Regions from separate parts of the Homo sapiens genome. Here region 1 is linked to region 2. Evidence: fine-mapped expression QTL. A gene starts in region 2. The other region holds a variant in brackets. All regions are shown on one strand. Distances are between the middles of the regions. Region 1 overlaps ELF1 (E74 like ETS transcription factor 1). Region 2 holds the start of ELF1 (E74 like ETS transcription factor 1).

What was found. PIP is the estimated chance that this variant, and not a neighbour inherited with it, causes the effect.
Region 1: its variant is fine-mapped to the expression of ELF1 in whole blood (INTERVAL, PIP 0.99).

Annotation. Positions count from the first base shown.
Region 1 is chr13:40,981,343-40,984,264 of GRCh38, forward strand. It overlaps ELF1 (E74 like ETS transcription factor 1), which reads right to left. Exons shown (of 9, transcript NM_172373.4): 2 at 641-940. The coding sequence starts at 712. Among named protein-coding and RNA genes, the nearest start is that of ELF1, 37 kb to the right of the region's middle. The variant CT/C (reference allele first, on the strand shown) is at 1,612.
Region 2 is chr13:41,017,625-41,020,546 of GRCh38, forward strand. It overlaps ELF1 (E74 like ETS transcription factor 1), which reads right to left and starts at 1,692. Exons shown (of 9, transcript NM_172373.4): 1 at 1,604-1,692. RefSeq lists an enhancer at 1,577-1,686.

The DNA of each region.
Region 1 (2,922 bases), 36 kb before region 2:
TGTTGTGGGGAGGGGGGAAGGAGACTAAAATTAATCTTAGATCCTTTACTCAGTATCTCCTAGATCTTTTTTATGTACTGAAAACAGTAATTTGCACATCTTATATAAATTCACTGAAAGCCGATTTAGAAATTCTTCAGTTCAATCCCCTCATTCTGCAGATGATGAAATCTAGATCTAGAGAAGTTAAGTAACTTCCTCAGAGTCACATGCTTTGGACTGAAATGATGTATGATTATGGGACCGCTAACGTTGTCTCATCTACTTGAAGAAGTAGCCCATGATTACAAACATTAATTAACCACATACATTAAAAGGCAGTATATTCTCTAGAACTTTTCAAAGTACTTAAAAATAATTACTTAAGGCATTTAGTGTTAAGTCTCATTTTACAAAAAAACAAGCTGAATCCCAAAGGTATTACTTCCTTGTTACCATATCAAAGCTAAGGATAAGACTTATTCTTCATGAATTAACTGGTGCTTAAAACATAGTATAATATTTCCTCCAAATATTTCATCTATAAATTTTTACTTTCAATAAAGTTTCTCTCATTGTCTTTTAAAGGAAATAATTTTCTGATATGAATAGAAAAATCATAATAAAGTCATTAAAATGAAATTTTCTCTGAATCTCATACCTGTCGTTCATCCTCCATGACGTTACTAGCAAATTCAAATACTAGGTCGTTCTGTTGGACAACAGCAGCCATAATAAAGCATTCCCCTTAGATCCACATGAGAAAAATTCCAAGAAGATTCACGTATCAGGCAGCAAAATCCAGTGACTGATTTGGGTAAAAAACCCTCAGCTCTGTCTGTGGAGTAATTGTATACCCAAGTTTTCTTTAGGGAAGGTGCTTCAGTTTTCCTGGTTCATTGATATTCTAGTCAAATTGAGACAATTTTTCTGAAATTTTTCTTCTCTCAAGCTTCTTGGCCTAAAAAACAAAAGCTCAGATTAGTTATGAAAAAGCAATCACCCACTTAGGATATAATAACTGATACAGAGGGCAGTATCGCTAAAGCATTTTTTTATTATTAACGTTTTTAAATAAAATCGACACGACTAATGCACATACGCTCTTTTTTAAAAGTTACATATTTTATTTGAACAGTTTGCTCCTGCTAAGATCATCTGTCACTACTGAAAATTATGCCTCTCTCCCCCACTCTCCAGTTAAACTACTGTTAAAAGTACTCAATATTAAAAAAAAAAAAAAGGTCAAAAAACCCCAGCAATAATGAGGGTTGTAATCGCAATAAAGGATATATAAACAATTTCCTTCTTTTCACCAACTCAGCAAAGCACATACATAGAAACTGCTACCCAATGAGTAATTTCACAACGTATATATTTTCACCTTTAAGAGGATTTATATAAGGATTTAAAATCAAATACATTTAAAGTTTAGTAAGAAGTATTTTTAAATCTTTTAAAAATAAGCAGAAATTAAAGCCCACTCTTTCTGTTCTTTAAAAAGGCTTCTGATAAGTAAAATGTTTTAAAAATTACCATGCTTAAGCCTGTCTTCAGTGGCTTCTTTTTTAATGCACTGAAATGTATCCTTATCTCTAGTATAGGCTTGCAAGCAACAGGAAGGAAACAGCA[CT/C]TGACCACGTCATGGCAAATTAGAACATGCAAAGAACTGCACTTTACAATAGTAGAAAAACAGAAACGCAACTTAGTAGTGAAAACAATTTCACAGCGAAGGGACAAAGGCTTTTAAAATGTCTGCCAAAGATGTTTGCCTATTTAAAAAAAAAGTTATCAATACTAACAAAAGGAAAAAATTCTTTAGGTGTTTATCACAATCTTACTACATTTTCATCAAATGATTATGGCCTGAAAAGAAAGATACAAAAATAATCACATTAAATAACATTAGTTCTTTGAATTAGCATTTACAGTTTTATTACAAACACTTTAAAAAAGAAGTTGACTCCAAGGAAAGGATGGCCAGTAATTTCCTAATAATTTTAAAGAGACAAGTCTGGGGATGAAGCTGATCTAGTGAATCAGTTTCCCTGAAAACGTAAATCCAGCTAGTATGTGTCAGCCAAATCACTTAATCGGTTTCCTAATTTCTGTAAAGCCAAGTCCCTATGTGTCCTGGGCTTTAGGGGTCATCATGGATGACTGTGATTTTCCTAGCAAGAACTCAAAATAAAATAAGAATTAAGAATCCAATTCAGATGATATTTCTACTCACTACACTAAATTCCAACCCAGCAAATTTCCCACTCTCATCCACTCCCTTTTAACAGGAAGTTTAACTCCAACACTGGGAAAGTATTTTTAGCACATTCAGGTGGTTTTTGAGCAATGTACCATATCTAGAAGAGGGAAAAAAAAAGTGTTTTGATTTAAATTGATCACAGATAGATACATTTGGCCTTGTACTTATTATTATTTATAATACCTTTTTCCTTAAATTATTATCCAACCCAATTCCTCTGTAGTAGACCTGCCTTATGTTCCTCCACACAAACTATTCAGTCTTGCCTCTTTTCTCAACTTCTGTTATTTCCTATGCCTGCAACACACCCATCTTCTACTTGCCAGCATTCAATCCCATCTTTTCCATTCAATGCTCAAGCCCCATTTATTTCACAAAGCCTCCCAACATCTATGCCTCAAACTACAAGGACTGCTCCCTTCAAAAACACAGCAATTACTGCCCGTACAACCAATTTAGCATGAATTGTAGTACATTGTCTTACATTTGAAAACTGTGTCCCCTTAATTCAACTGAATACATGTTTGAGTACCAATTATTTGCAAGGCAATGTGCCAGGCACCAAGACAACTGAAGCAAAACCTCTTCTGGGGAAATAACCATTGTCTAAAATTTCTTCTGTACCTCCCAAACCTGTGTGCCCACAGTGATGACAAAAAGGATTATATTGATGACAAATACTG
Region 2 (2,922 bases):
TATCACGTAAGAAAATACATAAACAATATCTATACTACTTTAACTGTACCAGCTTCTTAAATTTAAGAAACCAAATTCCTCTACTTCTCTTTAATAAATAAGATCTTAATTATGCCGCTTATTTGTGTGCCTCTTGATTTTTCTCTTATGGATCACCACCTTAAAAAAGTTAAAAAAAAAAATAGAAAAGTCTTCATTAGATTTTTCACACAGACCAGACTAGAAGTAAATACAGCTTTTGCTTACTCAAAGGCTGACTAAACCAGCAATATGCAAACAAAGATGATAGCAAATGGCTCAGCTGAATTGGTAAAATGTCCGCTGTGTCTTTCTTGTAAGACCGCAAAATTGAGATCTGTTAATATCAACAATCCTTACAAAAGAGTAAGAAATAATAACTGATTGCCTTTGTCTCTTCCCTTTAATCTGACAGGCCTTCAAGCACTTAGTAAGTGCATAGCAAATTCTCAAAGAACTAGCTAAATATCATTTTGGTCAACAAGAAATGATTTGGCAAGTTTTATATCCAAAAACTTTATTTTTTGGAATCACTGCATATTCCAATTTTATCTTCATAAATATGTTTCAGAAATAAAATACTACTGCACTCATCTTTACAGAGCACCTAGAACTTTAAGGCACAGTAGGATGTATACTTGCCAGCCAAAATCTCATAACTACAATGACAAGTACTTCAGGAAAAGACTGAGCAATCTTTTCATTTACAGAAGGTTTTTAATTCAAGGCAGGCAAATTTTAAGAACAGTAATACAAAAGGAAGGCCAATACTCATCACTTTTTCTTTTTACACAAAATTGAAATAACTACGTTTCCTTAGAAGACAGCTTTACTTCTAAGGTTGTTACTCAGAACAAGTTTTCAGTGTGAATTATAAAACTTCATTTTTTTCTAATAGTAAATGAATCATTCTAGTCTTTCTTCCTCTATTTAATATTCACTTTTACTTGTTATCTAAATAATCTAATATTCATTTTTACTTATTATCTAAATAACAATTCATTTAAATTTCCATTGGGTTTCCAAAATGAAACATTTAATATAATTTCATTAACTTTAAAAAACAGAGAGGGAGAAAAAAATAAATAAATAACAGTCAATGAGCAACACCTATGGCTGAGTTGTCCCAAAACTTCACCCTTAGCTAAAATGCCAAAACAAAGCCACTGCCCCTGGATATTTAACATCTATATCACACAGGAATAATACGGTTTACTTAACTGTAACTTCAACTACCCCAAAAAATACAATTAGGTTTTTTAAATTAAAATTTGACCTTAGTTTGCTTTGTGGTACTTAAAAACAAATAAACAAACAAAAAACCTCTTTTATTCTTAAATTACATAGAAAAAAAATCACAAAGACATACAAAATGCTTTAGCAAGAAGATCTAAAACTTTCCAGAATTTCAGTGCTTTGTTTCCCCCTAGCAATTAAGTTCAATCAGGCATGTGACTGACCACACACATTTTATCAGAGGGTTAAAGAACACATTCAGCCATGTTCTTCAACAGGTAAGAACCACCCTCTGTTTATCAGCTCAAGAAAAAGCCAGAAGCAAACATACAAAATTGTAACAAGTTACCTTCAAGTATTCTTTCTCTATCGTCTTTTGAGCTTGAAAATAAAAAGCAATCCGACAAGTTTTAGCTGTTAAAATGGCTCCTGTAGATTGGGGAAGTGGTGTCTGTGCTTCAGCTTATGAGTCATACATGAAACCAAGTGTTTCTAAGGGAGGCACGCCCATGTTGCTGTGGACCCAATTATTCTGCTAGGTCAAACATGCAAATCTGCAGGTAAAAACGGTATAGGAAAGTGGGGATGAAGAGGCAAGGAGCAAGATCTACCTTGATTAGACCATTACTAAGCTCATATTAATTGCCATAATTTAAAACTAACAATAAAATAGAGTAAGAACCTACAAGGGAGCAAAATTAAAAACTATATATTGTTTTAAAATATAAAAATCTCAATTTTTAAAAGTTGCTTTACTATATCAAATAAAACTGTGAAAGGAAAAAAGTATGAAAGGGGATGGAAGGGAGATAGCAAACTCTGTGGCTCTTAATGTAACAATGGACTGGTGAGTGTAATCTGGCTACTCATTAACCCTCATATGAAAGAGATATATTGCTATGTAGTCTGGAAAGGCTAGCAAACTACAAAGCCAGATGCAGATCTGTAAGTTCACTAAACAGATAAAATCCACTAGAAAATTCAAAGTTCAGTGGAAAAATAAGTGTGAATTAAACTGGTTTACAGAATTTTTAAAAACCCACACTCCAATGTTAGGAATTTAAAGTCCAACAAAGCAAAATGATTTTAAATAAACTGCAAGCTTGATAAAACCCTTTTAAAAAAGTATTGGTACGATCATAGTTCATAACTCTACTACTTCCAAATGATAGCTACAGTTTGACTTACCTTTCAAGCAAAATTTTCTACATGTATTTCAAGCCTCTTGTGCCAGGCACCCTGCTACAGCTCCACTGCAATTGTGGCAAGGCCAACCTAAGGGGACAACTGTGGCCAGTGAAGCTCTGCCTTCCAAGTCAGAATACATCTGACAAAGTGCCCAAGCCACTGAAATATTACTACACCTACTTATTCTGGCCTCTGGGTGAATACTTATTAATTTATTCTAAGAGCTTAAATTAATCAAAATGGCTTGAAAGCACTAAGTACTTCCAAAGCGCTTGAAATGATAAATGCAACTCAATAGATAGCCTTCGTCCTGGTATCTTACAAAAAGTAAATAGGATTTAGCAAGGTTTTCTCCCTTTAGTTAATTAGTTGGGAGTTTATTCTGGCTTACCAGAGGCATAGTTGAGAGCACAAGCTGTCACTGACTTAGGAACTTTACAAAATGCTGCAAAACAGCAATGATTGTGAACCAACTTTCTG